Linked DNA regions of Homo sapiens: region 2 is linked to region 1. A link means that fine-mapping ties the variant in region 1 to the expression of a gene that starts in the linked region. Tissue or cell type: whole blood. Region 1 holds a variant in brackets; the other region holds the start of a gene. All regions are shown on one strand. Distances are from middle to middle.

Region 1 (10,671 bases):
GAAATTATTTTATTCTTTAAAACTATATATAAATAATTCATGTTTTTTTTTTTTTTTTTTTTTTTTTTTTTTGTTTTTTGAGACGGAGTCTCGCTCTGTCGCCCAGGCTGGAGTGCAGTGGCGGGATCTCGGCTCACTGCAAGCTCCGCCTCCCGGGTTCACGCCATTCTCCTGCCTCAGCCTCCCGAGTAGCTGGGACTACAGGCGCCCGCCACTACGCCCGGCTAATTTTTTGTATTTTTAGTAGAGACGGGGTTTCACCGTTTTAGCCGGGATGGTCTCGATCTCCTGACCTCGTGATCCGCCCGCCTCGGCCTCCCAAAGTGCTGGGATTACAGGCGTGAGCCACCGCGCCCGGCCATAATTCATGTTTACTATGGAAAAAAGAAATCACTTATAATCTTGCCACTCAGAAATAATCTCTGTTAACATTTTTGTGGTGGGGCATGGTGGCTCATGCCTGTAATCCCAGAATTTTGGGAGGCCAAGGTGGGAGGATTGCTTGAGCCCAGGACTTCAAGACCAGCCTGGGCAACAAAATGAGACTCCATCTCTTCAAAAAATAAAATAAAAAATAAGCCAGGCATGGTGGTGTGCGCCTGTGGTCCCAGCTACTCAGGAGGCTGAGGTGGGAGGATTGCTTGAGCCTAGGAGGTCAAGGCTGCAGTGAGCTGTAATCGCGCCACTGCATTCCAGCCTAGGTAACAGAGCAAGACCTGGTTTCAAACAACAACAACAACAAAAGCACGTTTTTAGGGTATAATCTCTTGGACCTCCCCTCATTCCAGAATTTACCTCTGTGCCCATCTTTGCTGGGACACTTCTGATAGGTGCCCCCGTGGTGTACTGGAAGTATGCAAATGCCACTTCAACTAGTTTTTTTCTTCTAAAGTCAGTAAGATAGGTACCCGGCAAATGTCACTTCTTAGTGAGCATCTACTGCAGGATAAGATGTATTTGCCAGCTTGCATGTGGATCTAGATTGTGGAATCACCTTCCTTGTGGCCTCTGCACATCTACAAATGAGAATGTCTTGCCTGCATTTTTGGAATAGCCTCCTTCTAGTTACGTGGCCTCCAGAGTGAGCAGAACAAGACGCTAACACATCGGATCACTCCTCCGATTGCAACCTTCCGTGGCTTTGCGTCCTGATTTGGGACAGACTCGGGCCACCCGCCTCCTGTGTCTCTTCAGGACGCGAGGCTTGTTTGCCTTTCCAGTTTCTTCGCTTGCCTCCTTACTGGGGGTGTTCATGCTGTAGCCTCATCAGACAATTTGCTCTTCCTAGAATGGGATGACTCTTTGCACCTAAGGATCGTTGTACGGGCTGCTCCAGCTGCCTGGAGTCAGTTTTCCTTCCCCGTTTCTTGTCTGACTAGTATTCCTACTCTTCCTTCAAGGCTTAGTCCAAATATCATCTCCCCTAACTACCCTGCCCCATCTTGTCTACTGTCACTTATGCGCGTCTCCTCTGTGGAGACGTAACAGGCCACTGCTAGACTTTGACTCATTAAAAATCTGTCATCTGTCTCCCTCACCACACTATGAGCTACCTGAGGGCAGATATTGTATTTTTTCTTTATTTAGACAGGGTCTCGCTCTGTCACCCGGGCTGGAGTGCAGTGGCACAATCACGGCTCACTGCAGCCTCAACCTCCTGGGCTCAAGTGATCCTCCTACCTCAGCCTCCCAAGTAGCTGGGATTACAGTCACACAGCACCGCGCCCAGATAATTTTTTTATTTTTTGTAGAGACAGGATTTCGTCATGTTGCCCAGGCTGGCCTAAAACTCATGGGCTCAAGCGATCCACCCATCTTGGCCTCCCAAAGTGCTGCGATTATAGGCGTGAGCCACCATCCCTAGCTAATTTTTGCATTTTTTGTAGAGACAGGGTCTCACCATCTTGCCCAGGCTGGTCTTGAATTCCTGGGCTCAAGCAATTTACCTGCCTCGGCCTCTCAAAGTGCTAGGATTACAGGCGTGAGCCACCACTAGGGATTGTATTTTTTAACACTTTTTTTTCTTCAGCCAGTCACAAAAAATCTGGCCCACAATGCATATTGAGTTCAAGAGGATTTCTTTTTAACTGACTAGAATAAAGGAATAAAAACTATACCTATAGCTGCTCAATGTTATTGTTGCTTCAGAGGTAAGCATTTTTATTAGATCCAGGTACAGAATAAATTTCAAAATTGACTCGGACAACAAGTTTGTACACACCTATGATCTTAATGCTTTACATTATGTAAATTACCTCATGTGAATTACTTAATTTAATCCCATCTCAACCTCACAACAGCCGCATGAGATGAGAGTAATTTTAAGTTATAGATTAGCCAGACTCAGGGATATATCAGGATCTTACAAATAGCAAATAATAGGACCAGAATTTGAACCAAAATCAAAATTATGATCATTTTCTAAACCAAAATGATTAGGATTCAATTGTCTTTAAAGTTTTCTGGGGCCAGGCACAGTGGCTCACCCTGGGAGGCCGAGGCCGGTGGATCCCTTGAGCTCAGGAGTTCGAGATCAGCCTGAGCAGCATAGAGAGAGCCCCGCCTCTACAAAAATATACAAAAATTGGCCGTGTGTGGTGGCACAGACCTGTATTCTCAGCTACTTGGGGGACTGAGGTGGGAGGATCACTTGAGTTGGGGAGGCTGCAGTGAGCTGAGACTGAGCCACTGCCCTCCAGCCTGGGTGACAGAGTGAGACTCTGTCTCAAAAATAAATAGGTAAATAAATAAATAAATAAATAAAGATTTTTGGATGCAGAAATTTGTTTCCAAAAGCAATATCCCTAAACCTGGCCCCTTAGTCGCCTGGTTCCTCATAATTTAGCAGCTGAATAATCACGGGTTCACATCCTTCTCAAAGGGTACTGGGTGTGGTGGCACATTCCTATAATCGCAGCTACTCAGGAGGCTGAGACGGGATGATTGCTTGAGCCCAGGAGTTCGTGCCCAGCTGGGCAACACAGTAAGACCCTGTCTCTTAAAAAAACGTAACTAGGGGACTTATGACCAAATCTTTTCCCTTCCTTCATCTCAACTATGATAAACTTTCTCCAGTCATCTTTCCTCAACTGAACATTTTCTGCATAACTTGGAAAAGTGGTAGATTGTTACCCACAAACAAAGGACTGCTCATCCAGGTAGTATATGGGGTGCACTGATGTCTTGAAGATCTTAACAGAAGGACTCTGATACTGGATGTTCTTTATGTGTAGAAAAGTGCCTTGTTCTACTTAAAGTTCTCATTCACTCAAAAACATTTACAGAGGAGTTAATAATCACAGATAATAACAGTAGCTAACGTTTATTGAGGGCTTAGTATGTGAGAGGCACTGCTCTACCTGCCTTATGAATAGTAACTCATTTAATCCTCAACAACCCTCAGGCAGGAACTATTGTTAAGACAGTCTATAGATGAGCAAACTGAGACAGAGAAGGCAAGTAACTTGCCCAAGGCCACGGAGCCTATGGTATATTGCCTGTCCCTCCATGCACAGGGCTCTCAGCCAGCTTAGGGTAGATGACACAGGCCCCGCCCTCATGGAGCCTAATTGCTCATGTGAGAGAGACATGGAACAAGGAACTTCGGTACTTGGTGCTGGGGACACATACAAGGTGATAAGAGGTATAAGAAAGAAATGTTGGGCCGGGTGTGGTGGCTCACACCTGTAATCCCAGCACTTTGGGAGGCTGAGGAGGGCAGATTTCTTGAGGTCATGAGTTCGAGACCAGCCTGGCCAACATGGTGAAACCCCATCTCTAATAAAAATACAAAAAATTAGCTGGGTATGGTAGCACACACCTGTAGTCCTAGCTACTCAGGAGGCTGAGGCAGGAGAATCGCTTGAACCTGGGAGGCAGAGGTTGCAGTGAGCCGAGATTGCACCACTGCACTCCAGCCTGGGTGACAGAGTGAGACTCCATCTCAAAAAAAAAAAAAAAAAAAAGTTGGACTGCTGGACTGCTAGCTGATGACTTCAGAGGATCAGAGGGGGTGACATTTTAGCTGGATCCTAAAGGATAAGTAGGAGTTCAGTAGGCTGACAAGGGTGGGGTTTGTTGCACAGAGTAACCTTTGCGAAGAGGATAAAACATGTAAAATGTGGAGGTGGAAGAAGAGTAACTTACTTGAAGAACAGTGAGAATTTCTGAGTGATTGGCTCCCAGGGTCCACAGGGGAAGCAGCAGGAAGAAGCCTGGAAAAGCAGGTTGGGCCAAATCATGGAGGGGCTAAAGGAACTGTACATTAGTTGGTGAGAAAGGAAGACTTACTGGAGATATTTAAACAGAGGAGCAGCATGATTACATTTGTGTTATACTTATGAGCAATGGGGAAGATGGACAGGTAGGTGAGAGTTTAAAAAGGAAACCAGAAAATCAATCAAAAGGCAGTTGGAGGCTCACACCTGTAATCCCAACACCTGGGAAGGCCAAGGCAGGAGGATCGCTGGGGTCCAGGAATTTGAGACCAGACTGGGCAACATAGTGAGACCCCATCTCTAAAAAAAAAAAGTTAACCTGGTATGGTGGTGCATGCCTGTGGTCCCAGCTACTCAGGAGGCTGAGATGGGAGGATCGCTTACGCCTGGGAGGTCGAGGTTACAGTGAGCCATGATCACACCAGTGAATTCCAGCCTGGGTGACAGAGCAAGAGCCTATCTCAAAAATAAATAAATAAATAAATAAATAAATAAATAAATAAATAAAAGACAGTTAGAATTAGCTAAGAAACACATAGTCCCCCAAGGAAGGAATTGGTGGGCAAAGTATTTTAAGAAGCAGAATCAATAAAACTCAGTGACCCTAAAGCTTCTCACCTGGGCCTGTGTGAATGGGGAGGACATTAACCTTGGCAGGGAATAAAGGAGGAAGGGCTCATTTGTTCATCTATTTGTTCAACAGACACTTTGTCAGAGCACAGGAACCTGCCTCAGGTACTGGGGCTACAGCGGCGATTCAGACACAGGCCTGCTCTCACAGAGCTCATAGCCTCATGGGCAAGGCAGACAAGTAAACACACTGATTACAAGGCAAAGTAGTGTGTGGGCCGCCCCCTGAGTCAGAGTCTGATGGTGACATCTTGACATCTCACCCTCGCTGGCATGGCCAGCCCTAGAGGCAGCACTGGTTCCTCTGGTCACTCTGCCACCCCCTCACTGAAGAGGTCCACTCTGGCTTCCCCAGGGCACAGGGGAAGAGCCTGATGTGGACATTTGGTGACGGCAGAACTGGAGCCAGGGCACAGCTTCTATGAAGGCAGGGCAGAAACTGGGCCTCCCAGTGGGTGAGCCACGTCAGTGCCCATCTGGGAAATCCAAGAGCCAAATGCTGGTAGAACTGGATAGAAACCCCTAATCAAGGCTGTGGGGGGAACAGAGCCAAGAGTTTATTTTTAATTTATTTTTATTTTTTTAGAGACAGGGTCTCACCCTGTTGCCCAGGTTTAAGCACAGTGGTACAATCGCAGCTCACTGCAGCCTCAAATTCCCAGGCTCAAGCGATCTTCCCACCTCAGCCTCCTAAGTAGCTGGGACTACAGGTGTGCACCACCACACTCAGCTAGTTTTTAAATTTTTTTGTAGAGACAGAGTCTCCCTACGTTGCCCAGGCTGGTCTTGAATTCCTGGGCTCAAGCGATCCTCCCAGCTCCGCCTCCCAGAGTGCTGGGATCAGAGGCATGAGCCACCGTGCTCAACCAAGAACCAAGAGTTTAAAGCTGGGCAGATATGAGACAAGAACAAGCCAGAATATCCAGGGATGATTATCCTAAACCCCAGGGAACTCGCTGTTTTCTCTGATGGCTGGTATGCGCATGGTACTCGGGTTATAGGGGCTGGCAAAGAGGGTCAGAAGTAGCCCTCTAACCAGTGCACTGGTTTCTACATGCTGCAGAGAAGTGGCCCAGTCATCACATCCTTTTCCATCCTCCCAGATAACCCGCATCAGTTCATCTGGGTGTGCTGTGGATTGCAAGGCATGAAGATTGACTATCTGTAATTGTTTCTGCAGGAGGCAAGCTGCAGGAGACGGAGGGAGGTAGAGCGAGGGGCCAAGTACACAGAGAGCAGGGCCTGTGAGGAGAGGATTGTCCCCCACTCTCCCTCTCCAGTTTCCTCTCTTTAGAAAGAAAAAGGAATGGACAGGGTCAGCAGAATCTGGAGGCTGCGTTGAAGCTGCCCGTGCTTCTGAACGAAGCAGCCAGTGCCGCTCGACCATCTGGGACACCGGTGGAATTCAGGGCCCCTCTCAGGACATTCAGGGCATGTGGACAAGGTCAGCCACAGGGTGAGGGAGATGGGTAGAGAAAAAGATAACAGGAAATGAATAAGAAAGGGAGCTGCAAAGAGAAAAAAGAGAGCTGGAGAGGAGTAAAGAGGTGAAGGCCCTGTTTCCTGTCCTTGGATTCTTACAGCTCTGCTCACAGCAGCTTCATTTCACACAGTGGCACCGACAACTGATGTGACCGCTTGGGGAGGCAGTAGTGGCGGGAGAAGGCTGGGTTGGGGACCAACTGGGTATGGCATGAGTTTCTGAACCTGGAGAACCTGAAGCCTGATGATCCCTGATGGGAGATGACAACAGGTGGACTGAGCCACTGAGGGGAGGGAGGCGAGCTGGGAGGGGAGGGGGGGGTTCCACGGCAAGCATGTGAATGAGGACACTGGTGGCTGGAGTCCTGGGAGCACCGCAGTCTCCTTTTGGGGTTGATCGGAGCCCTTGGCAGCTTGGGCAGCAGCCATTCATTGCTGTCTTCATTTTATTAACTTTAATTTGTAACTGGGTTGATCAGCAACTGTTCTTCCTGGAGGGTGTAATTAGGGTTATAAATAAAGTCAAGTGGAGAGTTTGGACAACCAAGGGCTGTGCATTCTGTGCTATACTGAGCCCGGGGCCCCCCACGACACCCTCCCTGGAGGACGCCATTTTCCAGCAATAGGTTTGTTGCCTCATTGACTCAAAGGGAAGGCTGAAGTCGCACAGAACCTCATACTTCATGATTTGGAAGGAGTCAGCGTTGGCAACCTTGATCTTCTAGAAACCAGCCATTTGGGGTATTTCCTGGTGGAGCCTTTTTAATTTAGAGCCCACAGCATTCAATTGATCCCAGATGTCCCAGCTCTTCCTTGAACCATCCAGGTATAGTGCATGCTCCTCCCCACCTACCCCATCCAGGCTGGACCCAAG[G/A]TCTCTCAGATCTGACTGCTTCTCTCCACCCCTACTGCCCAGGCTTTAGTTCAAGGACAACTCAGTTTCCCTCTGGATTATTCCTTGGTCCTCCTGGTCTCCCATGGCCCTCTCACTGTCTCCAAAGTAACCATCCTAAAGTACAAATATCTCCTTGTTACAGCACTCCAGGACAACCCCAAACAGCCAGCCCCTCACATCTCTTGCCTTTGCACATGCAGTTTCCTTCTCTTTGAATTTGTGTCTCTCTCTTGCCCTTACACGTCCATCATTGCTTGGTCTGAAATTGGTCCTCTACTCTCTTAAATCCTGTGTGTCAGTGTCATTCTGGATTTGCAGATGCATTTTGGACAGGGATCGTATCTCTGAATTTTTTTTCTCTAAGGTCTATCCCAGATAAGGCCCATATATAGATGTTCTAGGTGATAAGGTTCTAAATGTTCTATGTGATAAAGCTGCTGCTGTATATGTGGCTAAGTGTTGAAACCAACACTCTCCAATAAAACTTTACGTGGCGATGGAAATGTCCCATATCTGCCATGTCCAATATGGTAGCCACTAACAACATGTGGCGATTGAGCATTTCAAATATGACTATTGCAGTGAAGGAACTAAATTCATGGTATTGAATTTTAACTTAAGTAATTTAAATTCAAATAGCCACATCTGGCTAGTGGCTACCATATTGGACAGCACAGGTTTGGCTTAAGCCAACTTGGAATAAGGGTTAGTTAACAAGACTTCCTGCCTGTATCAAATTCAGCACCTCACAGCTATTTTTCAATCTTTGAATAAAATAAATAGCAGTAACAACAATATTTAATCCAGGATTAAATATTGTTTTGATAGCTCAGACTGGGGCAATGTCACAGGCTTATCATCCCAGGCAAACTTTTGATAGTCCAGGGCAATTTCATCTGTTTAAAACATGCTGAGGCTGGCGGTATCTTGCCAGCAAATGCCTTCTAAAGAAGGTGGAACATGGCCGGGTGTGGTGGCTCATGCCTTGTAATCCCAGCACTTTGGGAGGCTGAAGCAGGTGGATCACTTGAGGTCAGGAGTTTGAGACTAGCCTGGCCAACATGGTGAAACCCCATCTCTACTAAAAATGCAAAAATTACCTGGGTATGGTGGTGCATGCCTGTAGTCCCAGCTACTTGGGAGGCTGAGCCAGGAGAATCACTTGAACCTGGGAGCCAGAGGTTGCAGTGCACTGAGATAGCACAGCTGCAACTGCACCCCAGCCTGGGTGATAGAGTGAGGCCCTGTCTCAAAAAAAAAAAAAAAAGAAGAGGAAGAAGGTGGAGCATGATGAACCCAGCTAAGTGAGCTGCTCCAGGCATGAGTAGTGGTATTCCCCAAGCAGGGGAGAATGGTTTCTTAGGTATCCTGAAATGTGAGAGAAATTATATCCCGAGAGTCTTACAGGGAAGATCTGAATTTATCCTAAAAAGGTTATTTATTGGCCCAGCCCTAAAAACTTTAAAACAGGGGTAGAAATAGGACTAGTTCAGCAGATGTGCAGTGCCAGGCTGTTAGGTTTCCTTAACTCTTGCTCCAAGGGTAGATCCTTTCTTCTGCCTGTACTTTCTTGGCAATTAGCAATGTGTCTGAATACAAAAAGAAAGCTTAATCCTTTCTTTCTGGGCAGCTGCATCCTTTGAGTTACGGAAGCCCGGAGCTCTCTGGTGACTGATGGCAAGGTGGAACAATGGGTCAGACAGGGAGGTGAGAGCAGGGGTAGGACACTGACAGCAAAAATACAAAGTTCTCCAGCTCCAGTGCCTACCCCAGTTATCAGCCTGTGCTAATGAAAAGTGACGACTCAGGAAAAGAAACTCTCAGCTGCCTTGGCCTCTAGAAGAAATGGTTTTGATGGGGGTCGGGGAGCAGCAGGCTGGGGAATAGGATGAGGCTGCCAGCATGGCAGTAGCTCTGTTTAAAAACACCCTTGGCCAGGCGCGTGGCTCACGTCTGTAACCCCAGCACTTTGGGAGGCTGAGGTGTGTCAATCACCTGAGGAGTTCGAGACCAGCCTGACCAATATGGTGAAACCCCATCTCTACTAAAAATACAAAAATTAACCGGGCGTGGTGGCATGTACCCGGCACTCAGGAGGCTGAGACAGGAGAATTGCTTGAACCTGGGAGGCAGAGGTTTCAGTGAGCCGAGATCGCATCACTGCACTCCAGCCTAAGCCACAGAGCGAGATTCCGTCTAAAAAACAAACAAACAAAAAAAAAACAAAACAAAAACAAAAACACTCTCACAGGATGGGAAGAGCTAACAAAAGGAAAATAATTATAGCATTTTAGCCAACACTGTATCTGCTTAAACTCACATATAAATAGATCCTTAAGCCCTTCTCTACTCGGCATAGCCACTTTAACCTCATCCATGAGCAGGGACTTTGAGGGGGCAGGAGAATGTTTTCTGGTGAAGCAAAGAACCGCCCCCACAACCAAAGCACCACACAAACTTACGAAAAAAACAAACAACAACAACAACACCAAAAAAACAAACAAACCCTGCTCAGTCCCTGGGGAAGAGAAAAGGCCAGGATATGGAACAGGGAGGGAAGGGCTGCATTCAAAATCCCGTCCTACCCATACATTGTAAAATGGTACAACCACTTTAGGAAACAGTTGGGTGGTTTCTTTAAAAGTGAAACATACACTTACCATGTGACCCAGCAATCCCTCTTCTAGTTACTAATGCGAGAGAAATGAACACATGCATCCACATGATGATTTATATACAAATGTTCATAACTGCTTTACTCATAATAGCTGCCAACTGGAAACAACCCAGATGTCCAAACACAGGTGAATGGCTACACAAACTATAACATATCCATATAATGGAATATATTACTCTGCAATAACAAGGAAAGAACTATGATAGACGCAACAATATGAACGAATCTTGAAATCATTAGGCTGAGGGGGAAAAGTCAGAGGTAAGAGTAGAGTAGAAACTGTATGGTAACGTATACAAAACATGCAAATCTGATCTGTCATGACAGAAAGCAGATTGGTGCTTGCCTGGGGCCAGGGAAGGGGCATGACTGACTCAGAAGGGGCCACAGGGAACCTTTCAGGGTAACGGAAATGTTCTCTACTTTGGTTATTGTGGTAGGTATGCAAACATACAACAGTGCACCTAAAATGGGCACATTTTGTTGTGCGTAAGTTAGACCTCAACAAAGTTGACTTAAGAAATAATTCCTTCCCGAGAGCCTGGCCTACGAGGTGCGGGCAAGCAGAGAGGCCTCCCTCAAGGCACTGGCGATACTGCCAAGCTGGAAAAACGGCTCGCTGGCAGCCTGGAAAAGGCCGTTCTCTGGCTCTTGATCCTTAAAAGGCTGGAATTTCTGGCTGAACAAGAAGGCCTGGGCCCAGTCCCCAGGGGGCAGCTTCTCCTCAGCTCTGGGCAGGGTGCCCGGCCACCCCTCACACAGGTGCTGGC
Region 2 (8,000 bases), 32 kb before region 1:
AACAGGCTGGAATTGCTGGTTAGAATACTGCATGTTATTTAAGCTAAAATTCAAGCCATCTACAAAAGATTTCTCATTGAGGCCTCCATAGGCTGCAAACACATCAAAGGCATTACTGTACTGGAGAGGACTGAGGTTAAGGGGGCTGTCACCTGGGAACATTCCATTGGTACTACTACCTTGACCCTGCATATTAGGAAAAATAAATTCCTTGGCATTAGGAGAAAGAGCAGAGGTTTTCTGCTGTTGTTGCTGCTGTGGTGGTGGTGGTGGCGGTGGCGGCTGGGCTGGCTGCTGCTGTTGCTGTGGCTGCTGCTGGCTACCCAAGCCAAGCCCATACAGAGAGTGCATTGAGGAAGAGATGGCTTTCTGCTTCAAGAGGTCATTCACATTCAAGCCGAGGTTGATGGGAGAAGTACGTGCAACCTTGTTGCTACGGCCACTATTCTTCATTTTGGTAGAGCCGAACTTGGTGGCAGCAAAAGTGGCAGTGGTAAAGGTTAAAGGCTGAGTGGACCGGGGCATGAAGGTAGGGCTTACAGCAGCAGAGTGACCAAAAGGAGGCGATGGAGAGCTGGACACTGATGAGGCTGGGTCACTTATGGGCATAAAAACCTGGGCCTCTGGGTTAAAGCTGTTTTTGATCTCCTTATCCAACTCACATCCATTTTCATTATTATCATCCACGTAAAGCACCTTCACTGGTCCCTTTTCACCAATTTGGTAAGAAACCTCAAATGGGTCGATCCAAACACTAAGATCCTGTGGCAGATTGCCACGAACATCATCAATGTCCAAACCACTCTCTTTGGATGCTTGTTCAATCACTGGGTCCACTTTCTCCCCTATGTGTATACATCTAAACCCCGATCCTTTGTATGGCTTTTCAGGATACCAGTGCCCTTCATATTTCTTCTTAAGAAGTCTTTCAAGTTCTTCACCAAAAATGTTGACACGTCTCCTGGGAAGCTTATTGTACAAATACGAAATAATAAAATTTAGTGCTACTTGGATTTCAAGCTGCATAGCTGCTACGCCACAAAATTAGGTTTCAACTCCCCCACCAAAAAAAAAAAAAAAAAAAAAAGATGTTCAGTTTGTGGCAGAGAAACAAATTTTCATTCAAAGTGCTGGTATTAGTAGATTATCCTTCACCTTGAGTGATCTTGTTCCTTAAAACAAAAGCAAACATATCCAAATAAGATAAATGTAATATAAGTCCCATGACCTTCCCCCCTCCAAAGTAATTTCACCTTTCAAAATGTCTAAGATCCTGTGTTAGTCTGCTAAGGATAAAAAGAAAAAGAAAATGTCTACTAGGACAGAAAGCCTGAAAACTGTTACTAGCACAAAATAAACATAAAATAGAAAATCGTTTATTAAAGTTTAAAATGACACAGGAAAATGTAGATTTACAAATGAAATAATGCTTTTAAAAACCTGTTTCTGAATAGAGTTCTAAGAAGAAAAATCTCTAGAACATGCATTCTTCTCTCCTCAGTTCTCACAAGAATATTTATTGTACTCAGCATCCTCCCCCCACCCCCATATATATAGATGCCACTTTTAGGTAGTAATTTTTATTGTTATTCACCAACTTAGAAGTGAATCCATGTTTTAGTTTACTTTGGATATATACTGTTTAAATCTGCTCTGTCACTGACATTTAAAAATTTGGTTACGTTAGGAAGATCATTTTAATTTCCATAGTACATGATGCTAAAATTAAAGACACTGAGTACTAAATGAACTTCATCCTAGTAAATAATTATGAACCAAATTATTCTATATAGTTTCGGCCTTAAGTATACTAAGAGCATACAATATAATAAAATCCAGCTTCTCTGGGCCTTTTGTTTTCAATGTGTATTTTTCTAAATCTGAAAATACCTATTCGGCAGCAAGTATAACAAAAGCAAAGACACAAATTAAAACTATTGATTATTCTGTTTAAGGCCAGGGTTTCTGAGTTTTAGTCTGATTTTAAAAAACCTCCGTCTGTCCCTCTCTCCCTCCCTCCCTCTCACGGTAACAGCCGGAGAGGCAAGTATGGTAAGGTCGACCTTTAAACGTTTGCTGGATCAGCACTGGGTGGGGATAAGAAAAGATCAAGGGCAAACAGAAGATATTTGCGAAAGGGATCTATTTGCACACTGAAGTTGATTTAAAAGTACGTTTAAAAATCAAGTTGGTCTTAATTCGTCTGTTCTATTTTCCATATTCGTGGTGACAAAGGGAAAAAGAATCTCTGGCTGCCCCCAAACTACAAACACTTTCCAAGTCAAAAGCCTGAGTGCCGGCAGAGGCAGCTGATTAAGCCCAATTGCTTGAAGGTGCAGCCGAGCGAAATTCAGGCTCGGTGGAAGGTAGTTACAAAGCAACGCCTTAAGACAGGCAGGAGTGTGAAGAATTACATAAACAGCCAGTTAGATCTCATTAGATTTCTGCTCACAGCCCTCGGAGCCCAAGCGCTACAGCAGCAGCAACAGCAAGAGGAGGTGGAGGTGGAGGAGGAAGAGAGTACGAGCCTCCTCGGAGAAGGAGGAGGAAGGCCCGGGAAATGGAAGAGCAACCTCTCCCGGCTGGGCACCCAGCACCGAGCAGGTCGGGGCGCCGGGTCAGCCGCTCCCCTCCCCCGCCGTAACCCGACCCGCTGCTCCCCGCCCCGTGGCCCCCGCCCCGGGCTCCTGGGAGCCGGCCAGAGCCTGGGGGAGCACCGGTTCCTCGGCACCATTTTCAGCCTCGCGGCCACCGGCCCCTCGAACCCCAGCGTTCCACCGCGAGCTCGTCGCTCCTCCGGGCACCCCAACCCCCCAATTCCCGTCAGCTCGCCCCGGGCCGCCCGTCCCCGGCCAACTGCCCAGGACGAGCCCGACGCGCCGGCGGCCCCTCGGAGCCGCTCCCCTCGGGTCCTGGCGCTGCCCCCTCGGCGCCCAGGGCCGCGACCCCGCCGTCCCCGAGCTCCCGAGGGCCCAGGGCTCGACGCCGCTGCAGCCCCTCCTCCGCCGCCTGGGCCCGGGGCTCCCGTCTCCTCGCCGACCCCGCCCGGCGCCCCGAGATACTTACGGGCTGCTTCGGGGCGGCTTGGACCACAGACCCGCGGCTGGGCGGGGAGCAGCGCGGCAGGGCGGGGGCGCGGGAGGGTCGGGAGCGGCGAGCTCGCCGAGTGCAAGACGTTGCCGCTGCGGGGCTGAGGACAGAGGACAGAGGCCTCGGGCAGGCCTTGGGAGATCGCCGTTAGTGGCTCGGGGTGGCGGGCACGGGGGTCAGACGAGCGCGCTCACTTCTCCACACAGCCCGGTGCCCGGCCCAGCGTCCCCGTAGTGCGCCCGCTACACGCCGGGCCAGAGCTTCGCTCCTTCTGCCGCGGCGCGCGCCCCGCCTCTCGTTTTATGGCCTCCTCCCCGCCCCCATCCCCTCCGTCGGGGTGCGCGCGCCCGCTCCGCGTCACACAGCTCCGGCGGCGCAGCCATTCCCCGCGCTCCCCGCCCGGCACCCCGGTCCCCCGCCGGCCGGCTCCGCCCCTGCCCTGCCCCCCGACGCCATTGGCCAAGTCCCGCCTGCCCCTGTCCGGACGCGCGGCGGACGCAGGGGTGGGGAAGCCGCACCCTCCGGGCTCCAGGAGGGCCAATGAACCGACGATCGGAGCACTGGGGACGGAATGAAGAGAACGTCTGGAAAGGGACTGTGGGGGCAGACGTGCCAATGAGAGAGAAAGGGGTGGGGTAGGGCGGCTGACGCCCGGTTTAGGCGGAGAGCGCCGGGCAGAGGGGGAGGGGGACGAAGCTGGTGGCGAAGCGGCTCAGGAGAACCGGGGCTGGAGGAGCGGCAAGAGTACCCAGAAAGTGCCCTCTCCGCGGGGGTCTGCGGCCAAGGAGGATCCTGCTCGTGGAATAGCTACCAAATCGGCCTCCAGCCCACCCCAGGGGCGGGGTAGAGAAAGGGCAAACTGTGACCGGGACTTGTGCACCCGATTAATTGAATATTAATCACCCCAAGGCCTAGGCCAACCGCCACCCAGAGAGTGGCAGCTGCAGAACCCAAAGACGTGGAGCCGGGCTGGGGGTGGGGAAGGGAGGCCGCCACAGCTCCCGCCCCGCCGGCAGTTTAACTGCTTCCGCAGCCTCAGGCCTCCCGGTGCGACCCCGGCTGCGACTCGGATCCGTTTATTCCAAATGTCCCAGCCCACGCCGTGCCCAGAGTGTGGCGACACGAGGCCAAACTGCGTATGTATCTGTGTCCATGTCTACACACACACGCATGCGTGCATTTCTAGGGCTTGCTGGATCGCAGGTGCACAGAATAAACGCGGTGCCTGCTTGTAAAGCGCGTTTAAGATCATTCTTGGCTGAAATATGTGCGGGTACCTAGGGAGTGGGGTAAGAGAGGGACTCGTGGTGGGGGGCGGGTAAGTGCCTTTTTCACAACCTGCCCCAGAGAAATACACGAAATTACATCGGGAGTGGAATCGAGCGTCCCTCTCAGCTAAAAATATTACTCACAGGTAGCAACGACGCCTGATTGGCTGCGCTGGTCCCTTCGCAACGAGGCGATTGGCTGCCTGGTATCCAGGAGACCGACGTCAAACTCGGACTGGGAAAAGGGGAAAGTCTGGGGGGAGCGAAGGAGGGGACGGGGAGAAAGAAGCAATGAATGAAACGCCCATCGCCTGGCCTTCCCCTTTCCCCTTTCCCCTCTCCTCTCCATTCTTGGAGCACTTCCTGGAAAAACACCAGTTGGGGCGCCGCCTTCCCCTCCAAACGTTGGGGCCTGCACTCTCAACCTGCTATAAGGAAGTTAAACCGCAGCTCACCGAGGAGTAGGGTGTCTACGGGGCGGGCCCGTGTAGACCAGCTGTGCTCCTCGGGCACAAACCCGCCGTACATGCCAGGCCTAGAAGCTTTTGGCTTTGTGGACGCAAAATCTGGTTGGAGCCGCCTTCTCCACCCTGACTCTCCCGCCTCTCCTTTTTAGAAGGAACCGCACTGAGAAAGGGTATTTCTGAAGGCTCAATGCGTAGGAGAAGGGGTGGGAAGATGGGTTTGTGGAATGGGCTGAGGGTGGGGAGTGGTCAGGTGACTGATTTCATGTTTATTGTACAGATTCCTAAAACATAGTTTTACTAAGTGACTCCTTAAATTCTGATTAATGTGATTTTTTTTTTTTTTTGAGTGTTTGGGTTTTTTAGTTGCAAACAGGAGTGGAATTGAAATGTGAAAGTATGGCAAAACTGTGAAAGCATTTAAATTAAAATGTCCCTTCCTCTGCATTGAAATGTCATCAAAGCGTCAAATATAAATGATTTGTTCAGTTTTCTTTTTTTATTTGTTTGTTTTTGGTTTTCTGTAATGACAAGTCCATCTGTAATAAAAGTGAGTTATTTTTAGTTTTCTAATTAAGCACAGAAATTTCAAGAAACTAGACAGGATATCCTTGGAATGCCTTACCAAAAGAAACACTTCATTTTTCACGTGTTCTAGAAGCACAACTTCTTTTACCATTAGGCAAATAATGGTACTGTACCAAACATCTAGAACTGCGGGACCATGTGTCTTGATTAGTAATTTTATATTGGGGGGGCATATTAGGCATGGCTGAGACTAAAATGTCTAAAGATAGATGAATTGTAATTTTGTCAAACTTATCTGTACTTTTCAATAATTCTCTAAAGAGAAGGGACAAGTTCTCTTTTCTGAATGTCTTCAATCTGTAATTCCAGATTTGAAATATGAGAGCAGTCATCTGATAGGTACTGATTAAATATCAGTAGCATTAAAAGCATTTTTAAGTCAGAAATGTAGATGTCAAAAATTTATGAGTTATTGCTGCTTGGCCTAGGAGTGTAAGAAGATGTCTGACCAAATATAAACACACACACACACACCACACAAACAACACACACGGAGGCCCCATGGCATACTGGAAAAAGCAATGAAGGGTGGGTACTGGGAGGTCTGAGTTTCACACCAGTTTCAATAAACTTTTAGTTTTCTCACCTATAAAAAGGGTTGAATTAGATCATATCTAATGTCTCCTTCAATTAAAAAAAAATTCCACACTTGGCTGGGAGCAGTGGCTTACGCCTGTAATCCCAGCACTTTGGGAGGCTGAGGCAGGCAGATTACCTGAGCTCAGGAATTTGAGACCAGCCTGGCCAACACGGTGAAACCCCGTCTCTACTGAAAATACAAAAATTAGCCGGGTGTAGTGGCACACGCCTGTAATCCCAGCTACTTGGGAGGCTGAGGCAGGAGAATTGCTTGAGCCTGGGAGATGGAGGTTGCAGTGCGCCGCGATCGTGCCACTGCACTCCTGCTGGCCGACAGAGCGAGACTCTCTCTCAAAAAAATAAATAAATAAAATATTCCGCCCTTAAAACTCAATGTTCCTAACATATATACTGCAGCTGTTCTTCAAATACAGATTGCAAGTCAGGGCGCGGTGGCTCTCGCCTGTAATCCCAGTACTTTGGGAGGCCAAGGTGGGTGGATCATCTGAGGTCGGGAGCTCGAGATCAGCTTGACCAACATGGAGAAACCCTGTCTCTACTAAAAATACAAAATTAGCCTGGCATGGTGGCGCATGCCTGTAATCCCAGCTACTCGGGAGGCTGAGGCAGGAGAATCACTTGAACCCGGGAGGCGGAGGTTGCGGTGAGCTGGGATCGCGCCATTGCACTCCAGCCTAGGCAACAGGAGCAAAACTTCGTTTCAAAAAAGAAAAAAAATACATATATATGGATTGCAAATAAAAGGGAAAACTGATTCACATCTCTGAACATTGCCAGTCACGAGGTATAAAATGTTCTTTATCCAAGTTCTGCATATGGCTTATTATTATCTAACATTTACTTTGGAATTGTGCAGGGGAGTGGAGGGCTAACTGCTAATTGTGCAGGGAATTAGACTTATGGAGGAAAAAAGAATTTGATATTAGGCTCCAAGTGTATCACAATCAAGAGGTATTCCTCTCTCTGAGCAAATAACAGTCACTAGAAACTACAGCCTTTGCCTTTCACATCCCTACATTCTACACAATTCCCAGTGGGCCCTTACAATAAAGGTAATCGTTTGGTAAAAAATAACTTCCAATATCTTCATAAAATACAGTTCTTGAAAGTGCCTTGAATTATTACCTAATCCACACAAGAACACACACATGCAACACCTTGATTTCTGAGATAGAGACATCCTAAGTTTTCTAATTCTTAATATGCTTCCTTGTAAATTGAGAAAGGGTTACAGGAGAATAGCTATCACATGGTGTATAATTATTAATACTCATTTTACTTCTTTTTTTTTTTTTTTTTTTTTTTTGAGACAGAGTCTCACTCTGTCGCCAGGCTGGAGTGCAGTGGCACAGTCTTGGCTCACTGCAACCTCTGCCTTCCGGGTTCAAGTGATTCTCCTGCCTCAGCCTCCCAAGTAGCTGGGACTACAGGCATGCGCCACCACTCCCAGCTAACTTTTGTATTTTTAGTAGAGATGGGGTTTCACCATGTTGGCCAGGATGGTCTCTATCTCTTGACCTCGTGATCCGCCCGCCTCGGCCTCCCAAAGTGTTGGGATTACAGGCATGAGCCACCGCACCCGGCCGACTCATTTCACTTCTAAGGAATCAACCTTTTACCTTTATTTGAAAATAAGACAGGCAGGGCAAGGTGGCTCACATGCTCGTAATGCCAGCATTTTAGGAGGCTTGAGGCGGGAGGATCCCTTGAGCCGAGGAGTTCGAGATCAGCCTATGCAACACAGTGAGACCCCTATCTCTATTTTATTTAAAAAAAAAAAAAAGGCGGGAGTGGTGATGCACACCTGTAGTCCCAGCTACTTGGAAGGCTGAGGTGGGAGAATCTCTTGAGACAAGGAGGTGGAGACCAGCCTATACAGCATAGCGAGGCCGTTTCTATTTTATTTTCTTTTATTTTTTAAAAATTAGCCGGGCGTGGTGGCGCACACCTGTAGTTCCAGCTACTTGGAAGGCCGAGGCAGGAGGATCTC

What was found. PIP is the estimated chance that this variant, and not a neighbour inherited with it, causes the effect.
Region 2: TOB1 starts here. The variant in region 1 is fine-mapped to the expression of TOB1 in whole blood (INTERVAL, PIP above 0.99).

What each region holds. Positions count from the first base shown.
Region 1 is chr17:50,894,090-50,904,760 of GRCh38, forward strand. No RefSeq gene overlaps it. Among named protein-coding and RNA genes, the nearest start is that of TOB1-AS1, 33 kb to the left of the region's middle. The variant G/A (reference allele first, on the strand shown) is at 7,204.
Region 2 is chr17:50,862,992-50,870,991 of GRCh38, forward strand. It overlaps TOB1 (transducer of ERBB2, 1), which reads right to left and starts at 3,363. Exons shown (of 2, transcript NM_005749.4): 1 at 3,067-3,363; 2 at 1-1,172. The coding sequence starts at 1,026. TOB1-AS1 (TOB1 antisense RNA 1) reads left to right here and starts at 3,688. Exons shown (of 2, transcript NR_038458.1): 1 at 3,688-4,226; 2 at 4,505-5,380. RefSeq lists an enhancer at 1,979-2,028 and silencers at 2,569-3,178, 3,189-3,698.